Linked DNA regions of Homo sapiens. The protein of the gene in region 2 interacts with the protein of the main gene of each other region in a pairwise test. Each region holds a gene or a part of one and is shown on either strand. Other genes may lie near its edges. The genes, in order: NISCH, CLIC6, MYO1E, ARG2, OXR1, ZNF224 and ZNF18.

What was found.
Region 1: the proteins of CLIC6 (region 2) and NISCH interact in a two-hybrid assay, tested with the Homo sapiens proteins (one large-scale study listed by BioGRID and IntAct).
Region 3: the proteins of CLIC6 (region 2) and MYO1E interact in a two-hybrid assay, tested with the Homo sapiens proteins (one large-scale study listed by BioGRID and IntAct).
Region 4: the proteins of CLIC6 (region 2) and ARG2 interact in a two-hybrid assay, tested with the Homo sapiens proteins (one large-scale study listed by BioGRID and IntAct).
Region 5: the proteins of CLIC6 (region 2) and OXR1 interact in a two-hybrid assay, tested with the Homo sapiens proteins (one large-scale study listed by BioGRID and IntAct).
Region 6: the proteins of CLIC6 (region 2) and ZNF224 interact in a two-hybrid assay, tested with the Homo sapiens proteins (one large-scale study listed by BioGRID and IntAct).
Region 7: the proteins of CLIC6 (region 2) and ZNF18 interact in a two-hybrid assay, tested with the Homo sapiens proteins (one large-scale study listed by BioGRID and IntAct).

Annotation. Positions count from the first base shown.
Region 1 is NC_000003.12:52,479,604-52,483,103, forward strand, and holds part of NISCH (nischarin), read left to right. Parts: intron 1-145; coding exon 146-259; intron 260-580; coding exon 581-692; coding exon of another isoform or gene 693-916; exon of another isoform or gene 917-1,275; coding exon of another isoform or gene 1,276-1,295; exon of another isoform or gene 1,296-3,154; coding exon of another isoform or gene 3,155-3,164; intron 3,165-3,500. UniProt on the Homo sapiens protein: Acts either as the functional imidazoline-1 receptor (I1R) candidate or as a membrane-associated mediator of the I1R signaling.
Region 2 is NC_000021.9:34,716,359-34,718,723, reverse strand, and holds the end of CLIC6 (chloride intracellular channel protein 6), read right to left. Parts: coding exon 2,242-2,365; 3' UTR 501-2,241; downstream 1-500. UniProt on the Homo sapiens protein: In the soluble state, catalyzes glutaredoxin-like thiol disulfide exchange reactions with reduced glutathione as electron donor. Can insert into membranes and form voltage-dependent chloride-selective channels.
Region 3 is NC_000015.10:59,135,403-59,138,871, forward strand, and holds part of MYO1E (unconventional myosin-Ie), read right to left. Parts: intron 2,966-3,469; coding exon 2,796-2,965; intron 2,055-2,795; coding exon 1,978-2,054; 3' UTR 1-1,977. UniProt on the Homo sapiens protein: Actin-based motor molecule with ATPase activity. Unconventional myosins serve in intracellular movements. Their highly divergent tails bind to membranous compartments, which are then moved relative to actin filaments.
Region 4 is NC_000014.9:67,636,920-67,640,419, forward strand, and holds part of ARG2 (arginase-2, mitochondrial precursor), read left to right. Parts: intron 1-1,673; exon of another isoform or gene 1,674-2,794; intron 2,795-3,500. UniProt on the Homo sapiens protein: May play a role in the regulation of extra-urea cycle arginine metabolism and also in down-regulation of nitric oxide synthesis. Extrahepatic arginase functions to regulate L-arginine bioavailability to nitric oxid synthase (NOS).
Region 5 is NC_000008.11:106,276,690-106,280,189, reverse strand, and holds part of OXR1 (oxidation resistance protein 1), read right to left. Parts: intron 1-3,500. UniProt on the Homo sapiens protein: May be involved in protection from oxidative damage.
Region 6 is NC_000019.10:44,092,862-44,097,160, reverse strand, and holds the start of ZNF224 (zinc finger protein 224), read right to left. Parts: upstream 2,801-4,299; 5' UTR 2,631-2,800; intron 819-2,630; 5' UTR 730-818; intron 1-729.
Region 7 is NC_000017.11:11,976,939-11,980,475, forward strand, and holds the end of ZNF18 (zinc finger protein 18), read right to left. Parts: intron 1,807-3,537; coding exon 1,019-1,806; 3' UTR 501-1,018; downstream 1-500. UniProt on the Homo sapiens protein: May be involved in transcriptional regulation.

The DNA.
Region 1 (3,500 bases), on a different chromosome or scaffold from region 2:
AGCAGGTGCTCACGCCTCCTCCTCAGCAGAGCCCTACCATCCTCCTGCCATGCTCACCAGTCCCCATGCTGATAGCCATCACCAGTCCCCATGCTGATAGCCATCACCAGTCCCCATGCTGATAGCCACTTTCTGGATGCTCTAGGTCTGTCTGGATGACACAGTGACCACAGAGAAGGAGCTGGACACTGTGGAAGTGCTGAAAGCAATTCAGAAAGCCAAGGAGGTCAAGTCCAAACTGAGCAACCCAGAGAAGAAGGTGGGTTTGTGTGGCAGGTGGGAGGGCAGTGGTGCAGAGCCAGCCGGGATAGGAGCCAGTTTGGGGGGCTTGGGCCATGGGACTGCTCAGGGCTGCCGAGTCCCAGCTGCGCCCCTCCCTGGCTGCATGACCTCGGGCAAGTCGCGGCCTCTCTGTTCTCTGTGGGGTGGGGACAGTGGTAGTTCCTGCTCTAAGGATATGATGAGACCATCTTTACCACCCAGTTGGTGGGAACCGTTGCGCTCCCTCCTCACACCCCTGGCCTTGGGGAGCTCTGTGCTTCCTCTTCTCTCCCGGGCTGACTCAAGCACTCGTCCTCAGGGTGGTGAAGACTCCCGGCTCTCAGCTGCCCCCTGCATCAGACCCAGCAGCTCCCCTCCCACTGTGGCTCCCGCATCTGCCTCCCTGCCCCAGCCCATCCTCTCTAACCAAGGTAATCGTGTATGTATCTTGCTTCTAGTGGAGCCACACAGCCCTGCCTGGGCCCCCTGGCTGGGCTGGGGTTGGGGGAGAGGTGCCAGCACCTGCTTCCAACAGGGTCAGACACAGGGAGGGCAGTGCCTTCTGCAGGCTGGTCCTCGCGGGGGGACACATGGCAGGGGTGCCTGGCCTGATGCCAGCTGTTGCTTGCTTGGTGAGGACTCCCAATTGCTCTGATGCCCACATCCAGCTCCTCTAGGAGACCGCAGGGTGTCTGACAGGCCCTGAGGCTGCCCTCTGAACAGGCTCGGGGCTGTTGGCTCATGGGACCCATTCCCTCACCGGCAGCACAAGCAGGTTGGCTCCTGGTTACAGGAAGCCGGGCTTGTGACTTTACTGTCTGGAGCCCGAATCCCTGTGCAGGGAAAAGCTTGCTTTTATCACTGCCTCATCTCTGTGGGGTGACCCAGCCCCAGAACACCATGTTTGTGGGGCCAAGATGGGCCATCTCTGTCCCTGTGGACCCATGGAAGACCAGGCCCATTCGTCTGCCCACTATCTTAGCGTTTTCAAAGGGCTTTCACCTCTGAACCCAGGCATCCTCGGAGATGAGTGAGTGAAGCAGGTCTCATGAGCGTGTCTGCTGGCCCGGCCCCCACGGAAGAGGGGAGGGTGTGCCGTCCCGAGTGGAGCCGAGGCTCGGGACACGCAGGAAAGGACGCCGCCTGCCCGGGCTCCTGGAGACGCAGAACTTGGTGTGAGGTCTTGGGAAAACAGTTCAACCCGATGTTTTAAGAGCCAGAAAAACATTCCCACCCCTTGACCTGGTAACCCCACTGGTGGGGATTTTCTCTTAGAGGGATAAGATACCGGGAAGGGGAGGTGAAATGCTCACCACTGCCAAAACACGGGCTGCAACTGCAACATCGGAGGATGAGAGGGAGAGTCGGCTGTGGTGCAGAATGCTCAGCAGCCCTCCCAGCAGGGACAGGAAGACTGGGCAGGAAGAGGGGAGAAGCATTCAAGTTAAGGCAAAAGGCCCAACGCAGAGCAGCACACTGAGGTCACACCTGTGAGATGTGGAAGAGAATTCCTGAGCGTGGAGCGATGGGGTTAGGTGCCAGGATGATTGCCCATTTTGCTTCTGTCAGACTCTTGACTAAGGATTTCTGGTTGCATTTTATTACATAAAAGCCAGGGAGGTTATATCACGGTGAGAAAGCTTCCCTGACGCTGCCTCCTGTAGCGCAGCCAAGCGAGCCTGTGGAGGTACCATATGACTGTAGGCCTCTGGGGACAGGGAGCTGCATCTGCTTCTCAAGGCCAGGGACACAGCCATTTCTGCCAGCATCTGTTGATCAGTGAGTGAGTGAGTGGGCAGGTAGAGCAGGAGCCAGTGAAGAGCAGGCCCTGGATGGGTGGGGATGCACCATGTCCCCAGGCTGCAGCTGCAGGCAGCCCCCCACATTGTCGGAGAAGCCTCTGCACCAGCTCAGCCCCCTCCTCACTCCCCTTGTGCCCTGGGGACACTCTGCAGAGGGGCACTCTGCAGTCTGTCCCCGCCATCGCTGGACTTCTGGACATGGCCTCCAGATTTGCACCTCTTAAATAAAACTGCAGTGGATGTCTTTGTGTGCACCTCTCTTTCCTTTTGGTGAGAAACAGCAAAGATCGGACCCCTAAGGACTCTCCTGATGTCTCCGCTCTATCCGCTGAGTGCCCTTTCTGACCACTTGTTTGTACAGGCCACGGTCCAGGACGGGAGCAGATAGACTGTCCCTGTCCCTGTCCACATTTCCTTGGTCCAAACAGGGCTTGTGGGAGGTAGTGGCAAAAGGTGTTGGTCTTTTTCTCACTGATTTGGAGGCCTCCCCGTGTGTTTTTTCAGCCGCGTGTTCCTGGGTCTTGCCTGGATGGACAGGGTTTTTTAGCGCGTGGGAGCAGCTTTGCTGACCCATGCCTGTTGCTTCCAGCCTGATTCCCGAGAAGGGAGCCTGCTTGCGAAGGAACTGGCACTCGGGCCTGCCTGAAGGGGGCGCTGTCCAGACAACACCCAGCCTCCCGTCGTGGCAGGCGCTGTCGGAGCCATGGATGATTGTGACCAATAGGGGTGGTCGCCAGAGTTGATTGTCCAGCCAGGCCCAGGGGCTGAGAGGAGGCTGTGTGGAGAGGTGGTTAGGAGCCAGGGCTCGGTCAGCTGAGTTCGCATGCCAGCTTCCTAGCTGTGGGACCTCAAGCAACTTGTAGCCCCTCTGAAGCTGTTTTCTCAACTGTGAAGTGGACGCACCCTACTTCATTGATTCTAAGAGGCACGCATTTCCACCTTGTGACTTCTCTGAAACTGAGGTGCGTCTTTCAGTCAGTGGCGTCTCATAGTCGCTGTCAGCCAGCTGGTATTCGAGATGGAGTCGTGGAAAACCCGTGGACACCTTCCGCTAGGACCAAGATGGCGCCACCTGCCGCATCTTAGATTTGATGAAATGTGGTAAATAACGAGAGGCATGCATGAGCGAATGCTGGGGAGGCGCTTGGCACTACCCAGAGCTCCACAGAGGTGGTCGATGAGGGCTGCCCTTTCCCACATCCTTAGTAGGGGGTTCAAGATGACCCAGACTGTGCCCCTGGGGAGCTTGGAGCCATGCGGGAGGATGAGCCATGTGCTGGAGGAGAACAGGGTAGGATGGTGTGGGGCTTTTGTAGACTGTCTAGAGCAGAGAAGGTCTGCAGTGGAGGTGGTGTCTGAGGTGAATCTCGAAGGTGAATAGGAGTTGAACGTTAGCAGGCAGAGGGTGGATTGCAGGAGAGCAGCGGCCTGGGCAGG
Region 2 (2,365 bases):
TATTTTATTTTATTTTATTTTATTTTATTTTATTTTGTTTTTCATTTCATTTCATTTCATTTCATTTCATTTCATTTCATTTCATTTCATTTTGAGACAGGGTCTCACTCTGTTGCCCAGGCTAGAGTGCAGTGGTGTGATCTCAGGTCACTGCAACCTCCACCTCCCAGGCTCGAGGTATCCTCCCACCTCAGCCTCCCTAGTAGCTAGGACTACAGGTGCCCACCACCATGCCTAGCTAATTTTTGTATTTTTAGTAGAGATGGGGTTTCACCAGGTTGGCCAGGCTGGTCTTGAACTCCTGACCTCAGGTGATCTGCCTGTCTCGGCCTCCCAAAGTGCTGGGATTACAGACATGAGCCACTATGCCGGTATGCCAGGCCTGTCCTCACCATTTTAAAAGAAGCCCATACCATTCATTTTATTTCTTGAAACCTAAATGGAGAATGGGGAATGCAAAAAATAATAAAAAATAAAAAATAAAACCCAAAAGAAATTGGTTCCATTTAAACATTTTTATAATTTGTTTCATTTTCAAGGCACAAAGAGTTTATGTCAATCATTTTAATGTCTAAGAATACAAAGTTAGCACTAGTAACATCTGGTAGTCTAATCATTTATCATGCTTAAATGTAACATTACAAAACTACATTTTAAAATCTGCCCCCTAACCAGATGTGAAACAACGTGGACAAGGGTGACATGTGCTAGACCCAATCTCCAAAAACGTATGGTTGACAAAGACAGCTGACTGCTGGGGTAAAACTGCAGCAGTCATAATCGAAGAGCGAAAGAGGCCACTCTATTAAAGACTTTGTTTCTTTTGCTAGACATTTTTCACCTAATCCCAGGATAGTTTCTGTTAATGCATCTTACTCTCTTTCAAACGAATCGTCCCTAGAGCAGGTGTACACATTAAAAATGAGCTTTATAGCATCAAACACATACCACAACCAACTCTACAAGGAGGGTTTTCTGTAAGATGTGTACGACTGTCCGAAGAACACATTCTGGCTGATAAGTCTCAGCTCCTGTGAGGTCCTGATGAGTATCTAAACAACCTCACATTTTCTCTTCCACGCCTAGGGTTAAGGCCAGCACTCAGCCCACACACAAAGCTGTGATGAGAGGTTGGTTAGGGATGGTGGAGGCAAAGCCACAGATCAGCCAGAAACTCTTTTGAGTCAATAGTTTCTACTCCCTCCCTAACTGGACCGTTTACCAGAACTGCCCAGGACTTGTCACCATGAATTTAATCTCCCTGGATTTTCCCTGCTTGATGTCTAGATGAGACAATGAAGGGCAGAGAAGTATTGCTATCCCCACACGATACCACCAGCACTGAGGGACTGCAGCCTTGGGTCTCAGAGAGAGCCGCCCGGAGAAGGAACCAAAGTGTGCTTGGTTCACATTTCAGGGCAGGGAGGTTCTCCAAGTTGCAGCAGATATTAAGAGTCCTGCTGAAGGCACAGTCTCTAAGAGAGGGGAGGGAGCAAAGACAGGAAGCTGGAACCAGAGACACGGATAAGCACCCTCCCCCTTGCCTTTCCTGGAAGCAGAGGCAGTGGCATCCTGGAGGCAGAAATGAGGCAGAGTGGGGGTGACCCAGGGCTTCCGGTTCCTGCTGGTCATTGCGTGCGCATCTGTGGGCTTCACAATTCCCCACTCCTTAAAATCTAACCTCAAGCATCTTCTCTGGCACTGCGGTGCCCAATATTTTTGTATGGTGTAAGTCCTCTGTGTATGATCATCCAGGAATCACCAAGAGGTCCCCTCACCAGTGCTTTAAAATAAAATAATGCAATACCATATATGAATGAAATTGTGTGTGTGTGTGTGTGTGTGTGTGTGTGTGTGTGTGATAGAGAGAGAGAGAGAGAGAGAGAGAGAGAACAAGATACTGAAGATTTGGAACATGTTCTCCAGTAAGTTTTCGGTAATTAAGTGGAGTAAAATTGAAGGCGATTGTTAAAATGTCCTTCTTTACACCCTCTGATATTGCTTTAAAATATCAAGATAGGTGTGTCTCATTTTGTAATTACAAAGCAGTATTTTCATTTTGAAGAAAATTAAACTAATGTTTTAGAGAAGAAAAACAGGCTCTCAATGATTTAAAAAACTCTCAGAGACCAGTTTTTTAAAAATTGAAGGAATTGAACCCAAACCTAATTTGTTTTCAAACACACTGTTTTCGTATCCTTGCTCACTCAACTGAGAAATAAGACAGAAAACAGCCCAGCTTCATTTCATTCTTTTTGCAACATCTGAATATGCGTGTTCAATCTCTTGATCAGCTGGACACGTATTTGTGAACTCATCTCTAGCATAAGCATTATTCAAGTATCTCCAGATGCCAGTCATTTCA
Region 3 (3,469 bases), on a different chromosome or scaffold from region 2:
AGTGCTGGTGGCTGTGGGGACTCCAGCATGCTCCTCTGTCCCAGTTCTGGTGGTATCTTCCTCCCACTGCGGGGAGTCCATGAATGTGAAAGTACTTTAGAGACCACTAGTGTCAACAGGATTACCTTTCCTCAACTCACCGCATCATGGCTCTACTTTCCTCTCTGGTCGCAACATGGAACTGAAGTAGCCTTTTAACATTATTCGTTACTGTTACAGAATGGAGTTTGCTCCCTGTTCTTGAAGTAAAACACAGCAGAATTAAATGTATCTTCGTTTCAAATCTAGATCAATTTTTTTCCCTTATACGTAAGCCCTGATAATTTTTTCCCATGGACTTGAGGATCCTGAAAGCCTCAAAGGTGTATGCTGCTCAAACTCTAAGTTACCAGTAGCTTAAGAATGGCTATGGCACCCAGAGGAGGAAAGGTAGAGAAATGGCAGTCTCTACTTACAACCATTCCATTATTGATGGGCATTACACTGATTCCAGCTTTTCACTATTATGGCAAGAAAACATTGTTTTAGTTTGTTAGGGCTGCCGTAACAAACTACCACAAACCGAGTGGCTTAAACAGCGAAATGTATTGCCTCACAGTTCTGGAGGTTGGAAGTCCAAGACCAAGGTGGGCAGGGCTGGTTCCTTGTGAGGGTGTGAGGGAGAATCTGTTCCAGGCCTCTGTCCAGGGCTTGTGAATGGCTGTCTTCTCCCTGCCTTTTCACATGGTCTTTCCTCTGGCATGTTGGTCTCTGTGTCCAAATTTCCCCTTTTCATCAGGACACCATTATATTGGATTAAGACCCACTCTAATGACTTCATTTTAATTAGTTTTGTTTGTTTGCTCCATAAAGACTCTATTTCCAAATAAGGTCATATTGTGAGGTACTGGTGGCTGGGACTCCAACATCTTCTTTGGAGGCACACAATTCAACCCATAACAAATGTCATAAAAGAAGAAGGTGTTCGCCGATTCCTTTATTTATTTAGGAGGTGGGGGCAGGACGCGGAGTAAGTTTCCTATAGGGAAAGAGTTGAGAAGAGTCTGCAGGGACTGACCTAGAAAGCAGTGACACTCCGTAGTTGGAAAAAAGCAGAGCACATCTTTAAGTACCTGGTGTGAGTTTTGTAAGAAAACCTACCTTATGAATGAGTACAGTGGAATACTACTTAGTACATTCATACATGTTTCTACCATCTCAAGATTTTTATATATACAGTATATGATCTGTTTTTATAAATGTACAGCTTGAAAAAAGATCCTTCTTGTAGTAAGTACAGCATTTAAACACAAACCAATATGGGCCAGCCACATTCTAATTGAAGACCCAGAGAAAGCAAAGCCAGCAGCCCAGCCCCCAGCCCCCAGCCCCTGACCTGCTTGGCGGCCCTGATGGTCCCGGCAAAGTGTAAACCAGTGCCCCTCTGTCGCCCTGGGCTCAGCAGGCCAGCTTACCCTTGGCACGTACATGGGAAGTGCCTGCTCACGCTAAGCCCAGTCTGCAGAGGGCGGGTCCTCCCTGAAGGAAGGTGGCAGAGAGGAATGTGTCTATCAGGTATGGACAAGAGAGATGAAAGAAATGTGCTCTTCAACTAAAGGCACTTGTCAGCGGCCACCTACAGCCATTCTCTAGGCCTGGTGAGCAAGCAGGGTGCTGTTTTGATAGAAGCCTACAAGGTCTGAGCAGACCTCACTTGTCCTCTCACCAGGTTTAAATACAATAAATAAATCTTAATGCATGGTGGTTTTGTCCTCCTGGGTTCCTATGAAGAGGCTACCTTTTAGGATCACTTATGGAGTGATACTCCCTGTCCCCAACCCAGCCTTTTCAGTGTCCTCCATGGGGAAGGTACCAGAATAGCTCCAGGCCTTGGAGAAGCAATTGCTCATTGTGGATTGTAAGGGGAGCCCCTAAATATCCCCTCCCCTGGTCTGTGCCTGGAGCTCCTCTGCCCCATGTGTCAGAGTCACGGGCACCTCAGATCTTGGTCACATAGTTGTTGGGGAACAGGCCCTGCTTGCCTCGTAGTCGACCCGTCCACCAGCCAGAAGGATCTGCAGGGAGAGAGAGGTGGTGGAAGTGAAGATGAGAAAGTCTGTTCTGCCCCAGCCACACACACTCCGCTCCCATGGGCTCAAGTGATTTGGCTCCATCCATGTTGTTTTCCCTTTGTTCTTTAAATCAAAAAGTTTGTTGAAAAAAGTAAGATATCTACCAAATTAATAAAGCACTCAGCCAAGCCCATGGACTGCTTTAATAATGGATATTCAAGGTTGTCTTCCTGGCTTCCACTCCATCCACTTTCATTATGAAGAAGCCAGGAAGTGTGGGTGGGACAGACCTCCCCGTTTCTGGGGACAGCCCCTACCAGGTCTCATCCTCTCAGGGTACAGCCTTTGTCTTGCTACTGAAGTTGGTTCAGGGATGGACACATGGCTAATTTGGTCTGATCAGAATAAAAGTCAGGACTTTTGTCCAATGACTAAGAACAGAAGTTTCAGAGATGATGCACATTTCAGACATGGTTTGATATGTTGGCCTGGAATTGCTGCTGCCGTTTTGCTACCATGAAGAAAAACAGCTTGACAAGGGAGGGAATATAAATAAGGGGGCAGAGCTGAAAGAAGCATTAAAAAAGCTGGTGTCTTGATCAGACTGAGCCTGAGGCCTGACCTGCCTCTACAAATTGCAGTTTGAGGAGCCCATAAATTCTTTTCATTTTCACACTAGATCTTACAGCAATGTGACTGCATGCTCTTTGGGAGGCTGTCCCAGCCAACCAGCCACACACTTACCTTCTTTGATAATATCAATAATGTCATTGGCATTAAAGCTGAGTTCGTCTGTGTCCTGAGCGTCATAGGCATACAAAGCCTTGCACTGTGGCACCTGAGGCTTGGGCTTGGGCTGGGGCTTGGGTCTGCCCCCTGCTGGGGGAGGCCGACTGGTTGTTTGTCTCCTGACCCTGTGGAGAGAGTGGAGCAGATGAGACTGGGCCCCAACAGGGGGCAGCAGCACCGAACGGTGGTTTGGAGCATGGCGGCCGGCACTGGCCTGTTCAAGTTCAAATCCAGCTCCATCCTTAGAAGACATGTGGCCCAGGGTGCAGTCTTTAAACTTGAGGAATAAAAGTAACTTTTCTGACAAGGTTGTTGCAAATGCACATAGCTCTTAAAAACCTTAGCTGCTGTTGTCACTGTGTCCCCAGCATAGAAGGAAATGTGGGAGACACATATCCATAAAAAAGTGTCAAAAGTATACCCATACATTTAAATCAGGAACATTCAGGTATCTGTCCCTCCTTCCTCAAGTTTCGAAATGGAACTTTTGCAGGTGCCACAGAAGCCTGTAGGCATTTCTCCTTCACTGCATTCCCCCCAGATTACCACCACCTTACAGTTTGTATTAACCATTCTCTGGCTCATCTCTACAGTTTGCCACACATGTAAATACCCCTAGCCAATATTTG
Region 4 (3,500 bases), on a different chromosome or scaffold from region 2:
TGGACTTACAGATGAATTGACCTGATGCACAGTTAGAGAAAGGGAAAGTTCCCACAGGCATAACAGCCAGACACATATTCCTTACACATTACAATGTCTGCATTTTTCATCATTACCCTAAGCTTCTTGAAAAATTAGTGAGACCGTTTCTTATGACCTATGAACCAGAAGAACTTGCCACAGCACTCTGATAAAGAAATAGCTTTAAGGCTGGGCATGGTGGCTCACACCTGTAATCCTAGCGCTTTGGGAGGCTGAAGTGGGAGGATCACTTGAGGTCAGGAGTTCGAGACCAGCCTGACCAACATGGCGAAACCTCGTCTCTACTAAAACTACAAAAATTAGCTGGGCATGGTGGTGCATGCCTGTAATCCCAGCTACTTGGGGAGGCTGAGGCAGCAGAGCCCCTTGAACCAGGGAGGTGGAGGTTGCAGTGAGCCGAGATCATGCCATTGCACTCCAGCCTGAGCGACAGAGCAAGACTCTGTCTCAAAAAAAAAAAAAAAAAAAAAAAGAACTTTAATATTACTCAGTTCATCCTGCTGTTACAAAAAGTTAACTTCCCATCAGCCTCCTCACTCCTCTTAAAAAAAAACTGTAGCAGATGGGTTACAATTCATGTTTTCTACAACAACATACTAGAACCAGGGTTCAGATAATCCTAGAACTAGGGTTCTGTTCTACCAGTCCTTTGGGTATTGGTAGTACCCAATACTATTGGCACAGTGGGCATTAGAGGAGAAAGCTCTTAAGAGGTGACATCAGGCTGGCATCATGTATTTGTTGATTCAGTTATGTAATTAACTAGAATAGTTTAACATAAATTTGTAATCCTAGAGCAACTTTCATATTTTGTTCTTAAAGGTTATGGCAGTAGAATAAAAAAGTACTCACGGTGGCATACATTGCTAGCTGTCCACCAAAATCCATTCGCATTCTGTTCTGGACATAAGCTAGACCTGCATTTGCTGGCCAGTGCCAAAAGTGAGCAGGAGTAATGTGCCACTTTCAGGCCAGAGTCTTGAAAAGAGGAGGTGTGCTTTCTCAATGCTTTCTTCCTCTCCCGCTGCCTTGAACCTGGGGAGACCTAGACTTAGCCACACAGATGGCAAAGTCCTAGGCATGAGAGCCACAAGCCAGGTCTCTGAATTACTGCATAAAGGAAAGCCTCCTGCTGACCTGGAATATCTACCCTGGATGCTAAACAAACAAGAAATAAACTTGTTTGAGCCATATTTTGGGCTCAAACATATTTTGCTATGACAGTTAATTTACTCTAATAACCTTACTTAAAATAATATTATGTATTATGCCTATAACTAGCCCAGGCATGGTGGCTCACATCTGTAATCCTAGCACTTTAGAAGGCCATGATGGGAGCATTACTTGAGCCCAGGAGTTGGAGACCAGCCTGGAAAACACAGTGAGACCCTGTCTCTACAAATAATCCAAAAAAAAAAGAAAAAAAATGATTAAAGTCTGAAAGGATACAGTAGTAAAACCCGGGCAGTAGGTTTGGGACCTCTGATATACACGTTATCCAATTTTACAGAGAATTTCAAAACAAAACAGTGCAAGTACAAACTATTTGTCATAGGAGTTCTTCTTTGACGCCCCTGATCCTCAGTGAACTTCCCCTGACTCCTTTAGGACTCATTGTCCCAAGTCCTTACCTGGCACTGAAACTGTGCAAATTATAGAGTTGAGTTCGTTCTTCCTGAATATTCTAGGGGGAAAAAAGAAAAAACAGAGTTGGGAGCAGGAAGGTAGGCCACTCAGGCAGGGCCTCTCAAGGTATAAATCCCTTTAGAGGAGGCTGGCCCTTAGCTTTGTGGATGCAGAAACACAAGGTTGCTGAGTGCATAGCTCATCAGGCTTTCAGACCCAGACTCATGCTAACCATGCTGGATCAACCAAAATGCCCGTGCATAATTATGTTAAGCAGTAGTCCTTCCAGTGTCCACTGTCTAGAAGCTTTTGCCCATATTAAGGCATGTGGGAAACCAACTGAATAGCCAGAATGCTGTTTGGTGAGATGGCATCGGAGTAAATGGAGTTGGACAATGTGGACAGAATCCACTACCCAGGTTGGGAATTAATCTGATGAACCCCCGACAGAAGTTAGTAACCCTTCTAGCACCTGTAATGAGAGCAGAGTGGTGGCCTGAATTAGCGACTGAAATCCTTCTATGAAATTCAGTCTCTCTTCCTGGGAACGTTACTGTAAGATTGCCAAATTCTCTTTAGGTTCCTTTTTAGGCTTTGTGCAGCTTTTTTCTAATACAAGTGAGTACTGTTTTCTGTCACGTTTATCTGAGTCTACATCCTGGTTTGCATGATTGGACTTGGGTAGTCCCAAAGTTCTGTGACTTATCCACTGGATTGAGCACTTTAATTTCCCTGTATTTCTTCTTGGTCCTATGAGGATTGAATGAAAGTGCTTGGCAAATAGTTCTGAAACGTTAGTTAATATTATTTAACTCCAGTTTGGGGCCTTTTATATGACTATTCCTTAGAGTGCAATTACCAAAATATAAATTTATAAAGATTATAAATCTTTTATAATTGTACACCTAATATTATAAAACACCAGGCATACCCTGGTGTCTTACATCTAGTAAGAACCTAATGGTTGATGTGATTTAAGGAGAGTGCTGAGATAAACATGGAGGTGAAAGTAGAAACATCCAGGAATTGTCCATTCAAGATCTGTACAGTACACTGGGTGCAGTGGCTCATGCCTGTAATCCCAGCACTTTGGGAGGCCGAGGCAGGTGGATCACTTGCGGTCAGGAGTTCGAGACCAGCCTAGCCAACATGGCGAAACCCTGTCTCTACTAAAAATACAAAAACAAATTCACCAGACGTGGTGGCGCACACCTGTAATCCCAGCTACTTGGGAGGCTGAGGTAGGAGAATTGCTTGAATCCAGGAAGTGGAGGTTGCAGTGAGCCGAGATTGTGCCACTGCACTCCAGCCTGCATGATAGCGCAAGACCCTGTCTCAAAAAAAAAAAAAAAAAAAAAAAAAGTCTGTGCAGTCCAGGATTGTGTTGTCAACAGACAGAGGAAAGACTTGATATTGACTTGAAGGTTAATTAAAGCTTTCATTCTCTTAAGTCTAAAGTATCCTCTCCATATTTTGAGATTTGGTGAAGTCCATAATGACTTTACTCAAACCTTTTTGTCTTTTTTTAAAAAAATAAAAGATTTTTATAGATGTTTTATTTGGTTCACATTTTTATCTTGGTTCACAATGTCTTTGGCCTGTTGTCATATTTTTCTCCTCCTACCCCTGCTCTGCTACCTTTTTATCTGGTTGTCTGGATCTTCTCCAGGTTGGGGCCTTTTATATGACTATTTCTTAAAGTGTAATGACCAAAAGATAAATACAGAATTCTTGCTGTAGGTGTATCTCACCTTTAAGAATAGGTCTGGGTGACACAAGGGCTGGGGAGGAAAAAAAGAATAGGACAAAGTTTTCTGTCTTGTTTCCAATAT
Region 5 (3,500 bases), on a different chromosome or scaffold from region 2:
TCTCTTTCTAGTAATTCATGATCACTAAAACAAGTTTCTGCATCCTGAATGGACATCAGTCTAATGTGCCTGCCCAGCAGGCACATTATCATTTATTCCCCTCTTCCAGTAGTAACAGATTATAGATTATGCTTTAGGACTATTGGTCAAAATGGCCTATTCTTCCCCCAAACTCTGTCTCTCTCTCTCTCTCTCTGTCCTTTCTAAATGCTGAGTCTTGAGGACAGTGACACAATGATGGAAAATAGCTAGAGCTGATCCATTCCAGCACTGGGATATTATCCTGTCCAAGGTCCTGCTCTTCAGAATTTCCTTCAATTCCATGAACTCCTCCATAACCATCCAATGGATTCCTTTCTGCTTAATCTGAATAGAATACACTTCTATTGAAGTCAGTGAAGGAACTCTGATAAGTTACAACATCATAACTTTGAGTTTTGTTCTGTTTTGTTTTAAGATTTACCTTATTTGGACTTACTACTATTAGTAAGTTCCAGTGAAATTTCAGCCTTACTCCATTCCCTTCCACAAAGTAATCTAAATGATTAGTTCAGAGCTTTTCTATGTAGTTATCTATAATGTATCTATTACTGTTTTTGCAAATCTCTGTGCTTCAGTCAGAAGAGGCAGTTGATGGAAAACTTTTTAAAAGTGCATAGTTTCTAATTAAGCTACTAAAAACCTTTTATTTTCAGTCCCATTAGACAGCAAAAATAATTTAAAAACTGCAATACCAAAGAAAACCTTACCCATAATATTTAGGAACAAACATAATGTGTGCATGATACTCAAACACAAAACTCTTAATACAGTATATAATCAACAGCTATGCCTTAAAGGCTATGTTAAAATGATTTCTCTCTAGGTATTTCTTAAAATTACAGAATATTTTTACCATGCCAGAATGGTAATTTTTTCTTCTTAGTTGTTCATTTCATATTTCAGATAATTAAAAACTGTATCTGAAACATTCACATGACTTTATGCTTTCTCTGTTATACACCCACCAATGTAACTGCTGATTGGAAATTTAAAAACATGCTGGCAAAGAGGTAAAAATCTCACTTCAATGATACTTTAGTCGTGTGAAAGAATACCTTTCAACTTCTTTAGTCTTCTTAAGAATTTAAGAACCTAAATAGATATAACAGAAAATGAAAGTCTGGTTCATTTCTGTGGTTTTTAATTTTTGAACTGCATTGTGCTAAAGTATCTCCCCCACCTCCCATGTTGGAAACTACATATGGAAAAACCAATTGCTACACTGACATACTTACCACAAGCAGACTACATTTTATAGTAGCCTGAAAGCTACTAACTTTAAAAATGCAAAGATATGTGATTTTATTTTCCCATTTTAAGACATTTTAAAATAAGGCACTTACATTTATTTATGTGACTAAACCATTGGATGAATGAAAACAGAAGAAAATATTTTTCACTCAAAGCCATTTATCATGGCTGTTAACATTCTTCTGCTTAATATGTGATGTATGACATCCAGTCACTGTGATCTACGCAAAGGGTGAAAAATAAATGAGAGAAAGCATCCTTAGTCCATTAATATGTTAATTAAAAAAGTAAGATCACATTTTATCTTAGAAAATGACTGCATTTAAGAGACTGCATTCAACAGCCCTAATGGATGATGTAGAATTTTTTTTTTTAATATACATTTAACAAGTTAACCTTTCTGGATTTTTTTTTTAGTTGCCCATGTTTGTAGATACTAAGACTTGTTTGTACATAAATCTTAGTAGCCTTCCTGTAAAGTGTAATTTGGTATGTAGATGAAGGACCAGAGGTTAGTAAGGTAAGCCAGGAACAAAGGAATAAATCACGGGATGTTAGATTAACAATTTACATGATGACAGCTCCTGACTTTTATCAGAAAACAGTGATTCTACTACCTAGTATCTAATGTAAGAAAATATATTAATTTGTTCCTTGAACAGTTGTTTGTAGCAAAACATAAATTCTAGTGTGTACCCAGCCAGTCTAATGATGTAGATTGAAGGAAGAGAGCTAATGGGCACTGCTGTCATTAATCTTGAAAATTCAGATCAATCATTGGAAACACATATTCAGTAATGGTACAGAAAGAATCCTCTAGACTTTAACCATGACCCAGATGAAATAAAACCATGGCTCTAACATTTTTCTTTGGGGCCAAACAGTAACATAAATGCTGTGGTGGCTTCTTATTGTGCTAGCATACAATCAGCATACAAACAGCAATCCCTCAATTTTCTATGGGAAAACACACTTCCTCAACCAGTATATTCCACCTTTCCAGCCACTATGACTGGTGGAGGGCTCTTGACCTGACCAGGGATATTTGCTGGAATTTCTAGGAACAGCAGCTTCCTCTTTCATCTGTAAAAGGTACAGGAAGAGACTGTCCTCTTCACTAGGTTTGAACCTGGGAACATGAAGCTCTGAAAGCTTCTGGCAGCCATCTTAGAACCCTGAAGAGTAAGCCTGTCAAGGACATAGCCAAGATTAAGGAAGAGGAGCTAAGAAATTGCAATGGAAACTGCAGTGCAACTGGTCACATGGGTGTGAGCCCTGAATCAGGTCCTGCTTAGAGTCACATAGAGCTCCCGGCTCCACTTACACAGTCATGAATCATGTCTCTCTTTTTTTTCCTCAAGAAACTTGAGATCAGGCTTTATGATTCTTGAGAGTAAAACAGTTGGAACTAATTCAAGCATAAATGATCACTTGCAAGGGCACAGCTGAAGTGTGGTGGAATTAGCAGAGTACAAGGACAAAGAGGGTGCCAGACATCATGCTAGCATCTTTACTTGCTTATGTCACCGAATCATCACAGGAATCATAACCTATAATCCGGTGGATATGATTCTTAAAAAGTAGTAAGGTAGAAAGTAATTTGCCCAATTTTTTTGTAGCTAATAACTGAGGAACAGAGATTTGAATACAAACTTGGGTGGTGCTAAAGAGAATGTTCTTTCAAAGTTTCCATCTGTTCTGGTTTCCAATTTTAACTCTTTCATTATTCCAATTGATCATATGCATATCAGTCACCATAAATTACAAATAAGAATACATACATTATTTATTTTACAATGAACAACATACAACAGGTTTTCAGATTTTTATTGAATCTGAAATGCTTCAATAAACCATAATGGCAACAACACTAAACTGGTATAAAAACATCTATAAACTTAATAACAGAATTATCAGCAAGGGCCAATCTTCAATTTTCTGATCATCAAAAAATACATCCTAGTTGAAAGACATTATGCATATGGTTTTGTTTGGTTTTAGAAATCTTTACCTAAAGCTCTACTTATTTTCATCCCAATTAGGAAAAAATAAAAAGGCGTTTAATCTTTTTGACAATTTAGGTGAATACCTGAATTGAACATAATTAGAGACCCATCAGTTACCTTTTTTTTTTTTTTTTTTTGCCTCTAACAGAATCTAACAGCTGAAAGGAGAAGCTCTTGAGCTAAATATCGGTTCTTGAGCAT
Region 6 (4,299 bases), on a different chromosome or scaffold from region 2:
TTTACAGCTGAATGCCCACTAATAATGTTATCTATTCCTAAGAAACTTTATTCTTTTCAATTTTTTTTAAGTAACTTTATAGTGGAGAAATCTGAAAGACAGCGTCTCGGCCAAGTGGACAAGGTTGAGATCACCAATGAAGAGACAAACTGACATCACTTGGACCCTGTTATGTTGCAATGAAAAGGACATTTCAGCACTTCTGTGGTATCCCTACCAACAATGCATAATCTGAACCCGCAATTCACCACTTCTGTGGTATCCCTACCAACAATGCATAATGTGAACCCGCACATGAATTACATCAGACACAACTCCAAATGAATGCCTTTCTCCAAAATAACTTGCCTATACTCTTCAAAAATATCAAGCATAGAAAGACAAAGGGTGTAGAATCCTCAAGATTAAAGATTATGGAAATGTGACAATTAAAGGCAATGCATAAAATTAGACTGTGAACACAGGTGGTGGTGGCAGATGGGTAGGGGACACTTGTAAGAACCTTAAGTGAAAAATAGAACAAATTTAAATATAGAACTGCAGAGTACATAACATGAAGTTAGGTAATATGTTATCTAGCACTGTATAATAGATAATACAATAAACTACTATTAGCAGTCTTTGGATAGATATCTAATATTTAATAAATAACATTATCTGGTATACAATCTGAAATTATCTAATATGTTATGTGAAACCATATACTAGGTCTTCCTAAATTCTACTTACCAAGACAGCCCCTGGTACGTGGGCTTCCTTGCTGCAGAAAGCTATAATCAGCTGTCTCTGGTTACAGGTATGTTTCTAGTGGTATTCAGCTGATGGTCATCAACAAAACAAACAGGAAAAATGTAAACACTTGGCAAACGTGGGTAAAGAGTAAATAAGAATTTCTTAGGCTACTTTTGCAACTTTTCTATAGGTTTCAAATGACATGAAAATAAAAAGTTTTATAATTTTAGGAAACAGTCATAGGAAAAATAATAACAATAATGAGATTAATGAGTATGATATAACATGATAATTCACTAGTTTAGTCTGTCAGCATTTGGAAATTTCCATAGTTAAACACATAAGGGGGAAATATTAAGAAAAAAATTATAAAAATTTGTAAATGTTCATAAATAAACCTATAAATATACAAAAAGAAAGAAACACATTACGAGCTTAACAGTTGCTACCTTTACTTCATGGATTCGTAGGTAATAAAAACATTTTGTTCTTTTTTTTTTTTTTTTGAGACGGAGTCTCGCACTGTCGCCCAGACTGGAGTGCAATGGCAGATCTCCGCTCACTGCAACCTCCGCCTCCCAGATTCAAACGATTCTCCTGCCTCACCCTCCCGAGTAGATGGGATTACAGGCGCCCACCACCACGCCCAGCTAATTTTTGTAATTATTTTTTAGTAGAGATGCGGTTTCACCATGTTGGCCAGGCTGGTCTCGAACTCCTGACCTCGTGATCCGCCCGCCTGGACCTCCCAAAGTGCTGGGATTACAGGCGTAAGCCACCGCGCCAGGCCCATTTTGTTCTTAATAAAGAAAAATAGAATGCTGTACAATGACATGGTTCTATAAGAATACAAAATATTTGTAATGATTGAAACAAAATAGTTGACAACATTTTTAGAAACTCAGAAAATTTCAAGCCCCTAAGTCTTGCTTTCCCCACCTAAGTCCAACTAGTTCCTCTGCCTCAGTGACAACGTATCCCAAGAGAAGATCAAATCAGGCTCTGACCCAGACTGCTTAGGTTCCAACCCCAGCTCCACCTCTCACTAGTCGGGTGCCTATGCGCTCTGTGTCTCACTTTCGTTTTTAAAATAGAAAAAAGCAATACTTCTCCACAGAGCCACGGTGTGGCGTAAATTTATTTGTATAAAGCCCTTAGAATGAAGTTACTAATTAAGACTTAATTATTATCGACCCCCATGCCCGAGGACACAACCTATACACTCTCGGTTGGGGTGAGCATCTCGGTCAAAGAGCCAAGGACCACTCACGTAGAGCTTTGCCCTCAGAAGCCAAGAAGTCCCTCCCTGCAGCTCTTCTGGAAAGGTCGGGTTGGGGAACGAGAAAGCTGTGAAACACCTTGACCGCGTCGCCGTCCCCCATAAAAGTTAAATGCTCCTTTCCCTTCATGAAAGTGGACGCAACCCTCGCTCTCCTAAAAAGAGGTCAGAAGGCTTCCGGGATCATCCAGCGTCCTGCAGGGATCAGGGAGAAGGGCCGAGGCCCCTGCAGCTGGAGCTCTGACCCCACCCGGTCCTTCGTGGGAAATTAACAAGAGACCACCAGTCACCAAGTGACAGGGACTGCTTTAAGGCTCTCATTTGTGTTACCTCTTCCAGTTCCCAAAACGATTCCATTAGGATGGCCCTAAAGTCCCCATTTTAAAGAACAGTAACGGGAAACCCAAGGAGATTAACACCCCAACGTTATATCGAGAAGAAGTGGCCACGCGCGTGGGGTGCAGGGGGCGGAGTGGGCGAGCTCAGAGCCCCGGAAACCCTGAAACCAGGTGAGACGCGACCCAACCAAGTACCAATGCCCCCGGGAAGCGAGGACAGACCCAAGCCCAAGAAGGTGCCACGGACGAGAACGCAAACAGCGGCCCTTGCCCCTCCAAACCTCTACTCTCCGACGAGGCCCCTTTTCCCCTAATTCGATCACCAGTTCTTTGAGGATCCAATGCGTAGGTCCAGGAAATTCAGAAGGGCCTGCAACGCGCGGAACTGCCCCAAACTATCGCGGAAAAACTGCAGCAACCTCAGTCCCCGAGCGGAAGTGTCCGCGACTCCACCGAATGTTTGGACTCCACTTCCCAGAATTCCCCGGGACCCGCCAGCCGGAGCCAAACTGACCGCGACTCCACTGAGCGTCTGGACTACACTTCCCAGAATTCCCTGGGACCCAACTGCCGGAGCTAAACCGACCGCGATTCCACTGAGGGTCTGGACTGTACTCCTGCAGCATTACACTCAAAGGGAAGTGTTGACGACTACTGGGAAGCCCTTGACCACTCTTCCCACGGGGAACGAATCTCGTACCCCCGAGCGCCTGTTGGGAAATGTGGACTTCTACCCTGAGAGTCGTCCTTCCCTCTCCCTGGGTGCCTAAGAGAAAATACCGTATAGAAAGGAATTCCTGAAGTCTAAACCCCTCTAGTGAGGACAGGAGTGTTACTGGAAAGGGAACAAGCGAGATGATACACTCTTCAAATAAGTTTTGCCAGTGGTAAGAAATGGCATGTAGTTTTAATTTATAACTCTTGTAAAGATGGCATATTCTTGCATATTTTCAGGTGTCATTATTACATTTTTTGTAAATTGTCCAGATGTTTTGCCCACTTTCTTATTGAGTTTTTGGTTTTATCCCTCACTTTTCAAGCACTGTTCTTATATTCATGATATTAACATTTTATCTCGCAAATATTTTCTCAACAAAAACGTTTTTTTTTATTGTTTTATCTATGCAAAACATTTTAATGTATTTTATTATTTAAAACATCTCTATTGAGGTGTAATGCACAAAACGTGAAATTCACCATTTTAGGATATATGTAGTACAAATAAAAAGTTAGGAAACATTTTCATCACCCCAAAAACCCCATACCCACTAAGCAGTCACTGTCTAACACTAATCTCTGTCCTATTGAATTACCTATTGTGGACATTTCATATAAATGGAATTATACATTATGGAACCTTTTGTTTCTGACACCTTTCACTTAGCATCCTGCTTCTTTTTTTTTTTTTTGAGACGGAATCTCAAAAAAAGTGCCAGGCTGGAGTGCAGTGGCACGATCTTAGCTCACTGCAACCTCCGCCTCCCGGGTTCAAGCGATTCTCCTGTCTCAGCCTCCCGAGTAGCTGGGACTACAGGCGCGTGCCACCACGCCTGGCTAATTTTTCTGTATTTTTAGTAGAGACGGGGTTTCACCGTGTTAGCCAGGATGGTCTCGATCTCTTGACCTCGTGATCCTCCCGCCTCGGCCTCCCAAAGTGCTGGGATTACAGGCGTGAGCCACCGCGCCCTGCCAGCATACTGCTTTTAAAGTTCATCCACATCACAGCATGTACCAGTACTTCATAATATTTTATGTTTCTACTACGATTTGTTTTTTTTGTTTGCTTTGTCTTGTTTTGTTTTGAGGTGGGGTTTCCCTCTTGATGCCCAGGCTGGAGTGCAATGGCACGATCTCAGCTCACTGCAACCCCCGCCTCCTGGGTTAAAACGATTCTTCTGCCTCAGCCTCCCAAGTAGCTGGCATTACAGCCATGCGCCACCACACCCAGCT
Region 7 (3,537 bases), on a different chromosome or scaffold from region 2:
CGCATGAAACTCACTATACAGGCAGGACACTTTGAGGCATCTAACTTGTGGAGACAAGTACAATTGTACAGTTTAGATACATGTGTTAATAAACCACTAGAGAGTATTATAAACTAGATCAATGCTATCAATTTCTTCCTAACAAACACTCACAGACAAAATTAGACTATAACAGAGGTAATTTTAAAGCATAGAGCACACTTTGGCAAAAATGACAGCCCATGTGGGATGCCAGGAGAAAGGGGCAGCTTGAGGCAAGAGATCAAGTGGAAGGGTGGCTCAGAAAGAGGACACCAAAAACAAACTTACCTGAGATAAAGGTGTTGCCAGCACTGGCCAAGCTCCGATCGTCTGAACATTAGCCTAGGACTTTCCTATTACTGTTCTGCTACATTATGAACTTGAGGTTTATAGGGGCTGACTTTGGAGTTCAACTGCCTAGGGTCTTCTATGAAATAATGTGCTTTGAAATACAGTCAAACACACAGTGAACAAACAAATAAGATAGAAAGTGACTCTGCTAAGTTTATTTCAAACAAGGGACACTTGAAGTTAGTTTTTCACCCCTATGACAAAGAACACACGTGAGCTCACAGGCCCTCTATGCTTCTCCCCTTCTGGAACAGAAGACCTGCTCTAGAACTCATTTTAAGGGGCTGATCTGAGGTTCTTCCCATAAGCAGTGACTACAGCTAATCCCATTAAATGCTTCCCAGAAAGCACTTCTAAAACTGGATCTCCAATTTAGACTTTTTCCCCGATGGGTCCAAAGGAAGGATGAGTGGAAACATGAAGACTATTCTTTCTCCTGAGGCAGAATCAAGAATTTAAGCCATTGTGCAATCCAATCCAAGATATCCTCCAAGTCCAAAGCCATGTCCAGATTCTCTCCTCTCCAATCCAAGAAAAAAGGAGATTAACAGGGGTATCCTCTTAGACACAATTCCTCTTGATGGAGCTGAGTATTTTTGTGACTGGGCTGGGAGATAGAAATGGGGAAAGAGAGTTTGGTTACTGGCTATTGAAAGGGCTTCTTTCCTAAGTGGGATCTTTGATGTTTGTCAAGGCTCGAGCTCCAGCTGAAACTTTTCCCACAGTGCGAACATTTATAAGGTTTCTCTCCAGTGTGAACCCTCTGATGTCTATTAAAGTTTGATCTCTGAATGAAACTTTTCTCACAGATAGGACATTTATAGGGTTTCTCTCCTGTGTGGATTTTCTCGTGGTGGCGCAATCCTGAGAAGTCACTAAAGCCTTTCCCACAGTAATCACATTTACAGGGCTTCTCTCCCGTGTGAGTTCTCTGATGCTTCACAAAGTCTGAACTCCGCAGAAAGGCTTTTTTGCAGATGGTGCACTGAAAGTATGTCTCTCCGGTGTGAGTTCTTTGGTGAAAAATAAGCTGAGAATTCCTATAAAAGGTCTTCCCACACTCCCTGCAGGTGGGGAGCTTCTGGGCCATGGGGGCTCTTGGCTGCCCCTTCTGGGAGGTCTCTCTCTTCTCCTCAAGCCACATGGTGGACATTTCTCCTGAATGAGGATTAGGCAAATGCTGACCTAGTTGTTTCTCAGAAATCCTTTCTTGAGGAGACAGCTGTTCCCCTGTTCCCTCATCCTGAATGTTTTGCAGAGCCTCAGGGAGATTCTCTCCTTCTCCAAAGCATCCTGGCTCATCCTCAGTGAAGAAGCCCCTCAAGGAAGCCTGAGAAGGAACCTCTCCTGAAGCTTGACAGGAAGCATGCAGGAGCTCCTGGTCCCTGTGATTCTCCAAATTTAGGTTCTCCTTGTCATTCTCTTGTCTATCTCCTAAAAGAAGAAAGAAGATTTGAAATGGTTCAAGTGCTATGCCCTGTTTTCTAACTCATATGTCAAAGAGAGGGTCATCATAAAACATTCATTTTCTTTTTTTTTTTTTTTTTTTTTTTTTTAGGGCATTAGTAAGTGAGAAAGAAAACTACCATATGGCCCAAATGTTCAAACTCACTTCCCCTGTCCTGGGTTCAAGGCTAAATGGTTCAGCTCTGGAGCTGAGGATTTTTAAACAACACAGGAGTACTCATAAAGTGATCACTCCGTAAATAAAGCCACATGTATTTCTTAAGGACCAGGAAAAAAACAAGTATATTATAGGCAACTACTGCTTTTAAAGTGATTTTTATCTGATTATATATAAAAGATAAATATGGTAACTAAAAAAAAAAACTGAAGAGAGAGAAATATATACAGAAGAAAACCAAATCCGCCTCAATCTTACTACCCAGAGATAACAACTATGAGCATACATTTCCTTTCAGTCTTTTTAATTTAACCTATATGTATGCAGGTATATGCTATTTTCTGACATAATTTGTGTCATATTGTACATATAGTTCTATATCTAGCTATGGAGCATTTAATTGTGAATGGTGGCATTAATCAATGTAATATAGAGTCTCCCTCTCCCATTCATAAGACGCCCAAAATCTGTGAAATGCACGTGTCATTTTACCACAGCTGCAATGCAGCGGGGCTTTACTATAAAAGTGAATCCCTTGATCTGTGCTTGAATCTAGTATTTACATGCCCTTTATTAAATCACACTAGCAACTGGAAGTTTGTTTTTCTCATCGTAACTTGGGTTTTTGGTTATAGTACTTAATGATGCAAATAGAAAATTTTTATTTTGGTGGTAGGATTTTCAACTTTTATAAATTATTTTAACTATATAGATCTAAAGATGCCATTTACCTTTCTCTTTCACATATTAGTGTCTTTTCAATTGTCTGCCAGGGATCTAGACATCTTCTAGAGAGCTAGATCTGAACTTGTTAAGTCAAAAAGCCTTAGAATGTCCCTGAATCTAAAAATAAAATAAAATAAAATAAAAGCCTTAGAATATATTCCTCTCAAATGGCAAAGGTACTTTCTCGTGTTTTTAAAAAAGCCTTTATAAATATCATTTTAAAGAGCTGAGTAATGGCCCATCAAGAAGATGTCATAATAAACATATAATTTGTTCCCCTACCATGGAAATCTAATTTGCTTATTGTGTTTTTGCGACTACAAATAATGCTGTGATCAGCAGTTTTCTTCATAAGTTTTTGCCCACATTTCTCATCAATATCTCAAAGGAATTTCTCAAAGTAGAATTACTGTGTCAACGGGCATAAATATTAAGGCTCTTGACACCTACTGGCAACCCAACTTCCAGAACAACTCTGCCATCCTCTCATATGTGAAATTGGGCAGAGGGGGAAGTGGGTATTCAATACTTAAATATTGAATATTTTTAAACTTATGCCATTTAGATGGATGAAAAGTGGTTTTTCATTGTTTTAAATTTTAATTCTTAAGTTATGAAAGGATGAATCTTTATCACATTTATGAGCTATTTTTCATACTCGAAGACTGCTGCCCATATTTTACTGGGAAAGCACATTTTTCTTATCAACTTTCTTTAACTCTTTCTATATCAACAAAAATAATCATTTATCTGTCATGGTCATGAAAACTTTTTTTTTGAGATGGAGTTTTGCTCTGTCACCCAGGCTGGAGTGC